Regions from separate parts of the Homo sapiens genome. Here regions 1 and 2 are each linked to region 3. Evidence: fine-mapped expression QTL. A gene starts in region 3. Each other region holds a variant in brackets. All regions are shown on one strand. Distances are from middle to middle.

What was found. PIP is the estimated chance that this variant, and not a neighbour inherited with it, causes the effect.
Region 1: its variant is fine-mapped to the expression of TOX2 in breast (GTEx, PIP 0.96). The same link has a PIP of 0.9 or more in ileum.
Region 2: its variant is fine-mapped to the expression of TOX2 in whole blood (TOPMed, PIP 0.99).

Annotation. Positions count from the first base shown.
Region 1 is chr20:43,842,560-43,847,781 of GRCh38, forward strand. No RefSeq gene overlaps it. Among named protein-coding and RNA genes, the nearest start is that of LINC01728, 50 kb to the right of the region's middle. The variant C/A (reference allele first, on the strand shown) is at 2,520.
Region 2 is chr20:43,948,376-43,953,597 of GRCh38, forward strand. All of the region lies in intron 1 of TOX2 (TOX high mobility group box family member 2), which reads left to right. Among named protein-coding and RNA genes, the nearest start is that of TOX2, 36 kb to the left of the region's middle. RefSeq lists an enhancer at 2,200-2,289. The variant C/T (reference allele first, on the strand shown) is at 3,070.
Region 3 is chr20:43,912,299-43,917,520 of GRCh38, forward strand. TOX2 (TOX high mobility group box family member 2) reads left to right here and starts at 2,554. Exons shown (of 9, transcript NM_001098797.2): 1 at 2,554-2,692. The coding sequence starts at 2,594. RefSeq lists silencers at 2,205-2,324, 2,425-2,524, 2,545-2,654, 2,705-2,794, 3,865-3,924 and 1 more and enhancers at 2,291-3,008, 3,009-3,726, 5,105-5,164.

The DNA of each region.
Region 1 (5,222 bases), 70 kb before region 3:
GCCTGGTCCTGGGGTCAGGAAATTCATTCTGCCTGCCTTGGTTCTGCCATTAGCTACTGAGGCCAGAGTTCACGGACAGTGGGCAGCTGACCCAGATCCCATATCTCTTCCCAGCTGTGAAAGCTTCTCTGCCAATCAGCCACCAGAGTCTTCAAGGCTAAATAAGAGGTAATGAGTCCGCTAGAAAAATGGGTCAGAGGCCAATTAACTCAGGCTCAGATGTGGCTGAGAGCCTGCTTTAACTATGGCAATGCCTACAGCACGAGGCAGAGCTGGGGGATTGGACCTTTCGAGAGAGGGGTTGAAGATGGAGCCTCAAATGTCTGAGGGGCCCAGGGCTTGCGGGTGAATCAGAGTCCCAGGCCAGCTTCCTGGGGACTTGCTACCTGCCCTGCCACCTGGCCCTTGGAAAGCAGACAAGGGCATATGCCACATACTCAATGCTTTGAGTATCATCTCATTTAACCCTTTCAACAACACGGTGTGAGATGCTGTACAGTGGCTGTCCCCATTTTATAGATGAGGAAACTGAAGTGCAGCAGGGGAGGGAACCTGCCCAGAGTCTCACAGTCAGTAATGGGAGGAGCTGGGATTCACACCCAGGTGAGCTTGACTCTGGGGTAGGGCTAGAAGGTGCACTTTCTGTTATAGTTTCACCCAGGGTCAAAGCCAGGCTCATTTAGGCCAGGCTCTTTCGTGCAGCCAGATGTCTCTCTGAGCTCTTGTTCCAGAGAGCCAGCTGCACTGGGAGGTATCTCTGTAGGTCCTGGGTGCCTCATACCCTCCACACTCAAACCTGAGCTCCCCTGACCTGCCCCTGCCCTGTCCGCCTCATGGAGACAGGAGACTGTCCACATGGAATTAGACTCCCAAAGCCATTCTGATCTCCTGCTGCTCCCTCAACCTCATACGCAGTGATCCATGCAACAAACATACACTGAGCATCTGTGATGTGCCAGGCACTGATCTACGTTCAAAGGAGGAACCAGTGGACAAAATCAACAAACATTCCTACGTTCCATCTCTCAGGGGCTGACTCAAGAGGAAACATGAATAAGCAAATGATGTGCCCCGGGGACTGCCTTGGAGGATGTGGAGCAGGGTGAGGAACTGGGAATCTTGGAGGAGGTTGCAATATTTATTGGGGTAGTCGGAGTGTGCCTTATTGAGAAGCTGACCCTTGAGCAAGATTTTAAAGGATCAAGAGAATGAGTCATGGGGGTATTGAAGGGAAGAGCATTCCAAAGAAGGGGAACAGCCAGTGCAAAGGTCCTGAGGAAGAAATGGCGCTTGCAAGCTCAAGGAATAGCAGAGTGTGGGTGAAGAGGAAGGAGTAGGAAGAGGAGAGAGATCTTAGCAGGAGATGAGGTCAGAGAGAAGACAGGGAGCGGGCAGATCATGCGGGGCCTTGTAGAACAATGCAAGGCCTGGCTTTGACCCTGGGTGAAATGATGCCATCTGATTTACCTTCAAAAAGGCTCACTTGGAGAGGGGAGGCAGGGAGGCCAGTGAGGTGGCTGCAGCCAAATTCAGGTAAGAGAGGAGAGGGTGGCTGGGACCGGGGAGAAGGGGTCAGATTTGAGTGTGTTGTGAAGACCGAGCTGCCAAGGCCTCCTGATGGGTTGGACAGGTTGACAATTGAGAAGGGGGAGTCTGCAGGTGGGGCAGGTTTGGGGAAAGATCAGGAGTCCCGCTTTGGAGCTGTGATGTGGAAAGCCCTCCTAGACATCCCAGTGGAGCTGTTGAGAGAGTCAGGTTTATGGGCTTCCAGATGGGGACAGAGGTCTAGGCTAGAGTGGCTGGCATGTGGGTAGATATGGTCACCAAGGGCTGGCCCCCAGGGCCTTGGGGAGAAGAGGAGGGATGAACAGAGGCAATGAGAAGGAGTAGTTGCAGGGTTGGAGGAGAACTAGGAGAGCTGAGCTGTGCCGGGTCAGGTAAGATGAGGACTGAGCATCGCCCAGGAGACTTAGCGATGTGGAGGTCATCAGGGGCCATGTGGGTGAGGCCTGGCAGGAGATCCTGTGTCTGAGCAATCTATACCTTTTATCCATGTGGCAGGCTGAATAGCAGCCCCCATGAGGTGCCAGGCACTAATCCCTGCAGCCCCTAAATATTGATATTAGCTTATGTGGCAAAATGGTCTTTGTGGCTGTGATAAGGATTTTGAGATAGGAAAATTATCTGCTAATTTATGGGCCCTACATACAATCCTTATAAGAGAGAGGCAGAGGGAGATTTGACACAGACAGACAGATGGCAATGTGACACCGAGGTAGAAATTGGAGTCATGCTGCTATAAGTTAAAAAGTGGCACAGCCACCAGAAGCTGGAGGAGGCAAGGAATGGATTCTGGCCTGGAGCCTCCAGAGGGAGCACAGTGCCCTTGACTCTTTAATTTCAGCCTAGTGATAATGACTTCAGACTTCTGGCCTCCAGAGCTGCGAGAGAATAAATTTCTGTGGCTTTAAGCCATCATGTTTATGGTAATGTGTCATAGCAGCTACAGGAAACAAACA[C/A]GCCCCTTCTGGCATCAGGTCCCCTACTTCCCACCCTCCTTAGTCATCCTCTGTCCCTCATCCAACAATTGTCACAGCCTCATCACCAGGCTCCTGCTCCAGGCTGCCCCAGCACCTGCCCTCCCCACACAGAACCTGATGGGGTAACTTCGATTCCTAATACCCTCTGCATGGAGCCCACATTCATTAGCCTGAAGCCCAGTGCTTTTCCTGATAAAGCCCTAACAGTCTCCACACTCATTTCTCACCACTGGCTCCCACCACTTATGCTCCATAACCTCCATGCAATTTTCCTTTGCTACATGTTCTCTTAAGCTTCTGAGCCATTGTACTTGCTGTTCCCTCTGCCTGGAACACCCTTCCCTATCCCAGAAATAGGCATGGTTTGTTTCCTCATCGAATTTAGGTCTTTACCCAAAGAGCTTTTCTGATGACCATTTTAAAAGTGCAACTCCCTTTTCAGCCCCACATTCCTGATTCTCTTCCCCTACCTTGTTTTTCTCCGTGGTGCTTATCACTCACTATATATGTATTTAACTAATTTGTTTGTTGTCTTGTGCCTCCAATTAGAATTAAATTCCACAGGGGCAGGGAATGTAGTCTGTTTTGTTTACACTTGTATCTCCACCACCAAGGAATATGTCTGACATGTAATAAGAACTCAATAGATATACGCCGAATGAATGAGTGGGTGTATGAATGAATGAGCAAAAGAGACAAAAAACAAAACAAAACAAAACAAAACAAAAAACTAACCAGGTGTGGTGGCACATGCCTGTGGTCCCAGCTACTCAGGAAGCTGAGGTGGGAGGATTGCTTGAGCCCAGGAGGCGGAGGTTGCAGTGAGTTGAGATCATGCCACTGCACTCCAGCCTGGGTGACAGAGTGAGACTCTGTCTCAAAAAAAAAAAAAAAAAAAAAAGAGACTCAGAAGGAGAGGTCAGTGATATAGGAGAAAAGAAAGCCAGGAGCACATGATATCTCTGAGGCCAAGAGAGTTAAGTGTTTCTTAAAAATATAGAAACTTCTGAATCATCCATTGTAAAAATGAGTCAAGTCTAGGTATAATGCTAATGTATTTTTATTGCATAAAACTTTTTCGGGGATTTGATTATTGGCATGGCCTACCTGTGAGCCACAATATTTATTCAACAAAAGACCCATTCAGCTAGTTCCGCCAAACTCTTACATTCTCTGTAGATGAGGACGCCTTAAGTGCTGAGCCCTGCGCTATGCTTCATGCTGTGATTTTCCCACCAACCCTTTCCATGGGGTCTAGGGGCAGGTAAACAGAGTGGCCCCTCACCGTTTCCTGATCCCATTTCCAGGAAGTAACTAGCAGGAAAAGCTTGATGTGTAGCATGGTGTGTCTATATAAGGAGACACAAAGCTATGTCATTTTGAAAGTGGTAGTCCACGAATCCTATTATCTCGCAACTGTTCTCCCTCCCCAGTCCCAGTCATCTGTGGACATCTTTCCATGTCATTATTGAAAGATCTGTGTCATTTCTCCCATCACTTTAGGGCCACCTCATCCCACCCCAGAGTAACTATGGAGACCAGTTTACTGTGCGCCTTTCCTGGTGTGTCTGATCTTAGTCTCACCATGATCTGTCTATATAAACATACACATATATACACACAAACAACGCTGTGGGGAGGGACGCACGCCCTGTCACAGAGCAGCAGCTGCTTTCTGCAGACCAGCTCTCTCACCTGGGAGTCCCCCACAACCCATTCCCAGCCTCTAAGAAGCCCACGAGCAGGTGTGGGCTCTCCAGGGAGGTCGTGGTGGGGAAAGCAGCCCTTTCTGTGAGAGATGAGAGCGGGGAGCTGGGGATGGGCGTGTTAATAGTCCTCTCTTGCAACCTACACATGCTACTTTAGTTTTAGCAGGTCATGGCATCACACTTGAGTATCGGCCTGCGTCTTGCTTCCTTCACTCACCAGCTTATCTTAGAGCACTCTCCATGTGGAAATGTACAGGTCCACCCCATTGTGAGTGAGGGCTTCATAGAATTCAACAGGATGGCCAGGTCACACTGTATCCAGCTTCCCTCCCAGGGATGGATCCCCATGCAGTTCCGATCTTCTCCTTGCACGTTTGGAGGCTGGGGCTATTATCAATATCTTTACACACTAAACATTTACTTTGTGTAGGTAGATTCCTACACAAGTAGTAGGATTGCTAGATCAAAGGGCAAGGACATTTAAGATTGTAATTGATGCTGCTGCCGAGTTATTTTTTGCTATTATGGTAGCAAGTCACACTCGTCCTCCGTGCGGGTGAATGGATCCAGATGCACGTGGTTGTCAGTCCAGGCAGGGAAGTGGATGAGTAGGGAGGCACAAGGGAGCTTAAGAGGAATGGGGGCGTGTTCTGCCTTTTTTTTTTTTTTTGAGGCAGAGTCTCGCTCTGTTGCCCAGGCTGGAGTGCAGTGGCACAATCTCGGCTCACTGCAAGCTCCGCCTCCCAGGTTCACGCCATTCTCCTGCCTCAGCCTCCTGTGTAGCTGGGACTGCAGGCGCCCACCACCAAGCCTGGCTAATTTTTTGCATTTTTTTTTTAGTAGAGACAGGGTTTCACCGTGTTAGCCAGGATGGTCTCGATCTCCTGACCTTGTGATCCACCTGCCTTGGCCTCCCACAGTGCTGGGATTACAGGCATGAGCCACCGCGCCCGGCCTGCCTTTTTTTTTTTTT
Region 2 (5,222 bases), 36 kb after region 3:
AACCCCTGCTCTTCCACTGTGTTGGAAATCGGGTATGTGGGAGCCTCCAGAGCAGGATGAGCTTCATGTTTGAAATTAATTTCCTTTCCTCGGCCGGCGGCATCCCTGATGACTCTCCCCTGCTGCCTTGTGCATGAACAAACCGGTAATTAATGAAATTGGGAGCAGGGGCAGGGAGGTGAGGTTTCCAGTGGAGGCAGCTGGGGGTCTGCTGGGGCAGCCTCTGTGCCACCCACTGGGAGGCCCCGGGCCTGCTGGGGCAGCCTCTGTGTCGCCCACTGGGAGGCCCAGGGCTGCCCAGGAGCTGCCATCTCCGTCTAGCCAGGGGGCCTGGCAGATGTTCACACATCTGGACAGTTGCAAAGGGAGGCATGAAATATAGATGGGGAGATGGGGAGTGAATTCTCCAGCTTCTCCTGGGCCTGGGGAGCCATTTTCCAGGGAGGGCCTCGGGAACCTCCTGCTGTTGGGTGTTGAGATGAGCCTGGAGTAGCAATTGGGTGGACCTGGATTTTTAGCCTTTGGTCTCTTGACTTCTAGTTGTGAGGCTTGAGGCAGCTCACTTAACCTCCCTGGGTCTTCCTTGCTGTGAAGAGCAATTGAGGCCATGGGAGCAGCAGCCCCCTAGTCATGGGGGGATTGGTGTAGAAAGGCAGCTTTGATTTGCATGTCCTCACCCCAGGGGCTCATCTAGAAGGAAACAGTTACTCTCAATGGCCCTTTTCCTGATTCACACCCTCCGTCACCTCAAAATGCCCCTTCTACTTTGTGCCCACTTTTTATATATGACTGTCCACCCCTCGGCTTAGGCCACAAATGTGGGATCATCTTTGACCCCTTTCTCTGCCTTACTCCTTGCATCTAATCCAACTGCACTTGCTGCTGGCTGTACCTTCAGGGTGCAATGACTTCTCCCCGCTTCACTATTACTTGTCACCGGGATGACCGCAGGAGCCTCCTCCCAGGCCTCCCTGCCTCCACCCTTCCTCCTTAGTCTGTTCTTCTCGCAGCAGCCAGTGGGATCTCTGAGAACCACCTGATGCGCACATCCCTCCCTGCTTAAAGCCTGTGGTTGGTTGTCTTTTGTAATCAGCTGGATCTGTTCTGATACCTTTAATATACCCACCTGGGGGAGCTGGGCACCTGTCTGATCTCACTTTTTGCAGTCCACAAGCTAGCTTCTGCCTCCTGCAGAATCACTGTCCTGCCACCTCCTAAATCCGCTTCCCCACTGACCAAGCTATTGTGCCTCTTAATTTTACTTTCAGACCCCTTTGTCTGGAATGGTTCTTTTACCCCTTGGACTCCTGTTTATTCTCGCAGGTGTGGTCACGACATCCACGGCTTTCCAGAAGCCTTCTCTGATTGCCCCCACCGTCTAGCCGCAACTATCAGAGCCAGGGTCCCCTTCCCTGTGCCCGCTTCTGTCATTGTCCTCCCCATCAGTGCTGTGATGCTCTGGGAGGACATCACCCACGATGATGCACCTTTATTCTCACACGTGCTGCAAGGCCAGACAGCACAGAAATGTTAATTTAGGCAGTAGATGCAAAAGACCTCCCTGCAAATTAAGGGCCTTCAGACCTAGACAGACTGGAATAGGATCCTCAAACTGGTTTGATTTGGCTGTGACCTTGGACAAGCCACCTAGCCTCTCTGCTTTGGAGGGTCACGAGGATTGACGAGATGACATGTATAACAAACATCCTCCTCTTTCCCACTTGCTGGATTGTAAGTGTTCCCAAAGACACTTGGAATGTTTAACCCCTCACATCTGCTCTGAGCAGAGCAAACTCAACAATGCATAGACGAGCCCACCACAGAACCCCAAACAGGAGCAAAAATAGCAGCCATCGGGGCAACCTGAGATGCAGAAGCCACAGGAAGAAGCCGCAGGCCAAGCGGATGTCAGCGGCTCTGAGGCCCTGCTGAGGTTCCTCGGATGTGCTGAGCTCTGCAGCCCTCTCGCCTGCCCTCGCTGGCTCCCCAACCACAGCATCAGATAAGGCCGGTGGAAAAAGTGCTGGCTTCCTCTTTCTGGGGAGGGGTAATCTCAGTGCCATCTGTGGGGCACACTCCATCCCCAGTTGCCTCTCTGGCCTCCCCTCCCCCTCCCCACTGCTTGCTCTGCCTGTCTTTGCTGGTCTCTTTGCTGACCGAGGTCACACCTGCCGGCAGCTCCCATCTTAGGGCCTGTACACAGGCTGTCAGGCCCTGGAATGCTCTCCCCAACACATCTACTTGGCTCACTCCCTCACCTCCTTCCAGTCTTGGCTCCACTATCACTTCCTCAATGAGGCCCACCTTGACTGCTCTGTTTAAACGTGCATACCCTCCATCTCGACATTCCCAATACCCCTCACCTGCTCAACTCTTTCTTCTTTCCATATACCATGTAAGTCACTTATTGACTATGTGTATTGTTTTCTATCTCCAATGCAAGAGCGTAAACTCCAGGGGTCTTTGTTCACTGCTGTCTCCCAGGATCCCAGAATAGTGCCTGGCACAAAGTAGATGCACAGCAAATACTTTTTTGGTGCACGGACGCATGAGTACATGAGTAAGAACCAGCCCAGCAATCAGAAGAGGTTCAGGCTAGATTTTGGGGTGAGGGGGGTTTGTTTCTGGGCTCCAGGCCCCAGGGATGGGCTCACGTAGTCATTAAGGATTCTGGCCCCATGATTGACCTGCATTGGCCAGAAGCCCCTGCTGACCTTCAGGGCGATAGCTGTCTGGGGCCAGAGAAGGGTCTGGAAGCCTGTGGTCCCTTTCAGGAGGGACCCTTGCAGTAGTTAAGAGTTTGGCTTTGGAACCACATTGCTGTGGGTTTGAATCCCAGCTCCACCACTTCCTAGGTAGATAGCCTTCACGTCTACCTCTCTGTATTTGAGTTTTCTACCTTTAAAATAGAGTAGATAGGCCGGTGTGGTGGCTCACGCTTGTAATCCCAGCACTTTGGGAGGCTGAGGCGGGTGGATCACTTGAGTACCGGAGTTCAAGACCAGCCTGGCTAACATGGTGAAACCCCGTATCTACTAAAAATACAAAAAAATTAGCCGGGTATGGTGG[C/T]GCACACCTGTAATCCCAGCTACTCGGGAGGCTGAGGCAGGAGAATCACTCGAACCCAGGAGGCGGAGGTTGCAGTGAGCTGAGATCGTGCCATTGCAATCCAGCCTGGGCAACAAGAATGAAACTCCACCTCAAAACAAAACAAAAGTAGTGAATTCTGACCTTGCTTGGGTGGTGATTATGAGGGTTACATGCAATATAGATAAAGTGCCTGACTCATGGTAGATGATCAGCAAATGACCATTACTATTAAACTTATTATGTTTTTTTTTTTTTTTTTTTTTAGAGAAAGGGTCTTGCTCTGTCAACCAGGCTCTAGTGCAGTGGCATGATAATAGCTCACTGTAGCATCAAACTCCTGGGCTCAAGCACTCCTCCCATCTTAGCCTCCTGATTAGGACTACAGGTACATACCACCATGCCTGGCTAATTAAAAATAATTTTTTGTTTGTTTGTTTGTTTGTTTTTTTGAGGCCGAGTCTCGCTCTGTCGCCCAAGCTGGAGTGCAGTGGTGCGATCTTGGCTCACTGCAACCTCCACCTCCTGGGTTCAAGTGATTCTCCTGTCTCGCCCTCCCGAGTAGCTGGAACTACAGGCATGTGCCACCACACCCGGCTGATTTTTTTTTTAAAATTTTTAGTAGAGATGGGGTTTCACCATGTTAGCCAGGATGGTCTCGATCTCCTGACCTCGTGATCTGCCCGCCTTGGCCTCCCAAAGTGCTGGAATTACAGGCGTGAGCCACTGCGCCCAGCAGAAAAGTAATTTTTTTTTCTAAGAGACGGGGCCTTGCTATGTTGCTCAGGCTGGTGTCAAACTCCTAGTCTCAGCTATCTTCTCGCCCTGGCCCCCCAAAGCTCTGGAATTACAGGTGTGAGCCACTGCCCCTGGCCTAAACTTAACTGAGCATGTTAGGGTTATGCTGCCGTAACAACCCCCTGAATCTCAGTTGCTTATCATAAGGAAGGCTTATTTTTGCTCTTACTATGTGTTCCATGACAATCAGCAGAGAAGTAGGGGTTGGGCTCTGCTCCACAGATCACTCAGGGCTGTAGGTTGGTCAAGTCTCGACCATCTGGAACCTTGCTGGTCCTCTAGAGAAAGCCTGCAGATCTCAAGTTTGCTTTTTTATACTTCTACCCAGAGGAGACCCACGTTGTTTCTGCTCATAACCCATTGGTCTAAACTAGACGCATAGCTCCAATAAATGGTAAGGGGAGCCTGAGGTGTAGTGTCCTATGTGCCAGGAAGGAGAGGAGAGCCAGATATTGGAGAGCAGTAGTAAAGTCTACCACAGCAGGTACTTCCCTCTCTGCCCTCTCCAGACATATAGGCAGACTGAGACACAGTTAGTCGGTACTTACGGGACTCACTGTGGGTGGCTGAATAATGACCCCTAAGTATAGCTAGGTCCTAATCTTTGAAACCTGTGTATGTTACTTTAAATGGCAAAAGGGGCTCTGCAGATGTGATTAAGGGTCTTGGGATGGGGAGAGTATCATGGGTTGTCTGGGTGGGCCCTATAGGATCACAGTGGTCCTTATAAGTGAGGAGGGGTTGCAGAATCAGGAGAAGGTGATGTGAGGATGGAAGCAGAGACTGGGGTGACGGCTATGAAGATGGAGGAAGGGACCACAAGCTAAGGAACACAAGCAGCCACTAGACACAGGGAAAGGCAAGGAAATGGATTTTCTCCTAGAGCCTACAGACCAGCCAGCCCTGATGACACCTTGGTTTTAGCCCAGTGAGGCTGATTTTAGACTTCGGGCTTTCCAGAACTGTAAGAGAATATGTTGTTTTAAGTCACCTGTTTATGGTGATTTGTGACAACAGCCCTAGGAAACTAATATATCACCTTCAGTCAGAAAATCATTTGAGACCCAGTGCATAGAAGCCGCCTCTGTCTGCTCAGACAGAACTGACCCCTTCCTCCTGTCTGTTGTGGCGCCCCTTGTACCTGTCTGTCATCACGTTCATGCACAGGCAGAGGTGTCTCTTAACATAGTCCTTCCACTCCCAACCCGCATGCTCCAACATGTATGCCCACACTCTCAGCCACTCTTTGAGCCTCTCATTGCTTGGGCTGATCCGGGTTGGTGTGTGTCCACGTCTGTAGGAATGCAGGGCAGGCTGGTGGCAAGGTCAGTGTAAAG
Region 3 (5,222 bases):
TATGTTTCAGACCTATATTGCTAAGTAACAAATCACTCCAAAACTTTGTGGCTTAAAATAACAATAATCATTTATTATCTCTCATGGTTTCTGTGCATTTTGGATTCAAGAAGGGCTCATCTGCACAGTTCAGCCTTTTTCATGTGGGTACAGTCAGATAGCAGATGGAACAGGAACAGCAGGAGCTGGCAGAGCTGGGGACTGGCTAGGAATCCCTCTTTACTTAGTATCAGGGTCTCTGCATATGATTTTTCTGTGTGGGTTAGTTTGGGCTTCTTCAATGCATGGCAGCCTAAGAGAGAGTTCTCATATGATGGCTTAGTGTTCCAAAGACAAAAGTCCTGAGAGAGGGAGCCAGGTAGAAGCCCTATTAATTTTATGATCTAGCTAGCCTCAGAAGTCACATAGATTCACTTCTGTCACATTCTTTTTGTTAAAACCCATTCGCTAAGACTAATCCCTTCCCGAGGGGAAGAGTGTTAGACTCTACTTCTTGGGAAAGGTGTCAAAGAATTTGTGGACATGTTGTAAAACAACAACCCTGTACTGACAACAAACAGAAAATAAAATAAAGAAGCCATTCATAATAGCAACAAAAAACACCCGGGGCTAAATTTAATAAAAGATGTGCAAGGTCTCCACGTAGAAAACTACAAAACATTGCTGAGATAACTTTTTTAAAAACCCAAAATAAATGAAGGGACATACCATGTTCATGGATAAGAAGTTTTACTATTGAAAATGTTAATTTTATTCCAATTGATCTAAAGGTTCAAAGTGATACCAATTGAAATCCCAGCAAGATTGTGTTAGTGTGTTTGTGTGTATATATATAAATAGGTATGCTGATTCCAAAATTTCTGTGAAAGTGTAAACATCAAGAATAGCCAATGCAGTCTTAAAAGAACAAAATGGGTAGGCTTATTTCATGGGACATTTAGACTTATAAGCCCACAGTAATCCAGACATTGTGATAATGGCACAGGGAGAGAAAAATAGGCTAACAGAACAGAATAGAGAATTCAGGAACAGTCTTATGCACATATCGACTACTTGATTTACGACAATGTTAGCATTGCAGAAGAGTATGTGTGTGTGTGTAGGGGGGTGGTGGTGGTGGTGGTGATCTTTTCAATAAAGAGTGCTGGTCAGTTGGATATCCAGATGAAAAAAATGGACACAGGACAATGGAAATTTTTTTCTGATGAGGTGTGGCATTGTATTTCTAGAAACAATGACTGCTGAAATTTATTTGGAAGTTCTTTCCTTTCTGAGCTATAATTTCCCTCTGTTGTTCCCAAGCCTTCAGTGAATGCCTGTTTCCCACACCTATCTTTTGTTAATGCATCTTTCTTATGGTCCTAGTTCTAGGCCAGGACCAGCAAAGCCCAAGCAGCAGTTGAGAACTAAGTTCTAAGCTAGCTCCTGAGTGGGCAGGAAGCTCAAGTCCTTTTCTCCCAATGGCATCCTATATCCTGGTGCCACACAAGAATGCCATTCTGGCTGACTTCGCCTCCTGGCCTCTCCCAGTCAGACATACCTGGAGCAGTCAGTGAGCAGTGAGATTGCTAGGGGAGATTGCTAGTGTAGACAATTCTTGCATGAAAAGGGGGATGGGGGTGCAACAGTCTAGCAACCAGCAAGTGATATCAAGAACTAGAGGGTTTTTTTTTTTTTTTTGGTTGGGGAGGAACCCCATTTCACAGTCACCTTTCTGACCCACCATCAGAGCCATCCCATTCCAATCTCATTTTCTTCCTTTCCTCACTCCAAGAGACCGTGACTGTGGGCAGATCCTAGACCCCTCTTCAGAGCTTCGGGCTCTAGGCATTCCTGCGGCCCTCCCCTCCCTATCATTAAAAGGGGTGGGGTCCTGCTGCCTTCTCCAAGTGGTTTCAGCTCTGGATCCTTTGGGGGCAACGGAGCCCACCCGCCTGGAGCTCCATTACTGATGCTGCAAGTTTTTGACTCAGTTTCCCCATATGTGAGTGAGAGTTTAAGCGCGGCAATCTCCAGGGGGGGCTGTCAAGCTGACTCAGATCAGTGAGACGAGGAGGGGGCGGGCATGCTAAGAGCATCCTCCGGCGCTGGCCTGCGTCCCCCCAGGTAAGGCAGCACCCATCTCCAAAGTGGTCCTGTCACCACCTTCCTCTTCCCCCCGCACCCACGCCGCGGGGCGGGGACTAGCGCCGCCTCAAATATTTAGGGCAAGGGAGTGTCCCACTTCTGGGGAGGGGTGCCGTTCGGGCTTCTCTCCTCACCGTGGGTGGCGAAAGGCGGGACGGAAAAGCGCCGTCTGGACAGGCGCGCCCCCCTCAGGGATGCAGGGCCGGGCGGGGGACCCGGCGGCGGCCCAGCCCGGAGGAAGGACCTCCACGCCCCGGCCCGGGCCCCCGGGCCCCCGGCCCTAGGCAGCGCCCGAGGCCGGAACAATAGCGCGCGCGGGCGGGGCGGGGGCGGGGGCGGGGCGCTCCTCTGGGCACCGCCCCCGGCCCGCCCCCCGCGCTCGCAGTCCCGCTCGCACACTGGCTCCCACCCGCCGCCCGCCCAGGCACTGCCCGCGGGAGCCGCCGCCGCCGCCGCCGCGCCCGCCATGGACGTCCGCCTGTACCCCTCGGCGCCCGCGGTGGGCGCGCGGCCCGGGGCCGAGCCGGCCGGCCTGGCGCACCTGGACTATTACCACGGCGGCAAGGTAGGCGGGGGCGGGCGGGGGTCCCCGGCGGGCGGGGCCGGAGTCACCTGGCAGCTCGGGACTCAGGCGCTCCCGGGGTCACACGGGGCCGCGCACATCAGCCCCGCCGACGGGCACGGGCGGCTCACATCGATCCCCTCGCGGCCACGCTCACGCCCTGAGTTGTTGGGATCGCGGGCAGAAGTCATCCCGACAGCCACCCGTGCGACGACACAGTGGCCCCTCACTCGCGTCCCCCTGACAGCCTCGCAGTCATTCACAAGCCGTCACAGTGACCCACAGCCACACGCAGGCGGCCAGGCACTGCTTACACGGTCCCGCCGTCCCACGCAAGTCACCCTGACAGTCACTTATACACAACGACACGCAACCACTCACCCGCAAACAGCCTCACCGCCACAGACGAGTCACCCACAGACGCTCCGATGCCCCACACACCGTGACATGCCCCCACCCGCTGTCACACCCAGGCACAACGGGGGACAGTCACACAAAGAAGTCGCCCGACAGTCACACTCTCGCAGCCACAACGCCTCACCCAGGCGCACGCTGTCACACACAGCCACCCCCCTGGACGGTGAGCCTCAGACACAGATCGTCCTGACGGCCACACAGTCACACGCGGTCACACCCAGGGACGGCCACACCTCGGTCATCCACACTCGCGCGTCGAGGTTTAACTTCTCAGCGCCGCAGCACACTAATTGGGCAGTTTACTAATTGGCCGTCACTGCCTGGCGGGGCCTCGGATTCCGAGTAGGCTGCGGCCAATCGAGGCCTGTGTCCTCCCGGGAGCGGTGAGCCGGCGTCCCTCCAGGCTGGGGCTGTAGTGCCGGACACCCTCCCTCCTCCATGTTTCCAGGATCTATCCCCCCACCCCAGCCAGGTCCCAGCTGCGCTGCGCCGGGCGCATTCCCAGTGATGGAGGCTTGCGTGCCTGGAACCCCGAACCCGAGGCGTCAGGTCCCACTGCCGGGTCTGGCCCAGCCTGGATGGGTTGGGTGCCTCTAAGCAGTCCGCGTCCCCTTCGGTCGCCGGAGAGGGAACTTTCAAACTTAGTTAGGAAGCCAGACTGTCCGCGCGTCCGCCAGTCGGTGCGTCGGTCCCGGGCCGGCTGGAGCCAAGCGCGGGTTTTCGTCACTCGGAGCCCGGATTGAACAGCGCGCGTGGGTTTCCCGCAGCCCTGGCGCAGACGCGTGGGCTCCGTGGCGATGCGGGGTGAGTGCGCGTCCAGTGGCTGGATCGGCGCCCCCCAGGGTCTCTCCCCAACCTCGCAGGCTTTTCGTCAGGCCCCTGGTAGTGGGGATGAGGCAGGAGAGAGGCGTCCCGGCGCGGATCCCGGGGCCTCCCGGGCTGGGCCTCCCTGAGTGCGCCCTCAGGCCCCAGGGGAGCGGCTTCTGGCAAAGCCTCCCTGCAGTTCGCCAGGGGCAGCAAGCATCCAGGCCACTAGGGCCTGCGCGATGTGGGGCGGTGGTGGGCGACAAGTGAGGTCTCGCGAAGAGTGGCGGTGGTTCTCTTTTGTCCAGTGACCTGCAAAGTTAGAAGCCGATGAGGGGGGATGGTAGCCTCAGGAGAAGGCCGGGAGCTGCCTCCAGTCTGATGGAGGAAAATAGATTAAAAGTAGCAAGTGGAGTTTTCAGGGAGGAGAAGGTTGGGTGTGGGGGCAGCTGGTCTGTCTTCTGCCCTTGGCTTTGTTATTTTTCAAAATGTGAAGTTGGCGAGGTAGGTACCAGCCTCTGGTTTGCGGGTGTGGGTGGGCTGGGCATTTGTGCCTCAAAGTCTGAGTGGGTGGGGGTTTAGCCTGGAGCGCTCCGTTTGAGGGTGGTGTTTCTATAAATCTCGCCAGGGTGGGGCTGTCCCAAATAGGGGCCTTTGGAGGCAGGACTCAGCCGAGGCCCCTGCTTTATTCTGATGCTCTGTAAACCTCTGACTCAGCACCAGAACCTGTGCGAATCTCGCCGGGAAGGGCCCGTCAGGGAGGGAATGAGAAGCCGGCGATTCTGGTTTCTTTCTGTGTGGGATGTAGGACCCCTGGCCCATAGCTGAGGATGTGTCCAGAGTGGGGCGGGGCAGGGATGGGGGTGGGGATGCAGCTGAGCCACTTGATAGGTGAAAGGAAGGTCTGACTTTGCACTTGGATGTGAAATCTGCTACTCAGTCCTTCAGGCTAGAGCAGGGTGAGGCGGGAGGGGAGAGGTCACTGTATTCATTTAGGGGCTAGAGGTCTTTTGGTAAGGGATTCCCAAGTGGGCATGGCCTTAGTGGTGGTGGTTGGGGGGTAGGGCCAGGCTGTGATCAGGAACTCCCCTTTTCTGGCTCAAGAAGTGGATGGGGAGGGGTTGGGGAGGGAAATGCCCAAGCTCCACCTTTACACTAGTCACTATCAAAGCTGGAGGGGAAACAGGCTCAGGGTGCAGTAGTGACCACACTTGGGGCCTGTAGGCCTGGCTGAATCCAGACATTGTGGGGTGGACACACCCACACATGGGGGGCTCTGTCCGCAGACAAGAGGCTCGTTGCACAGGGAGCC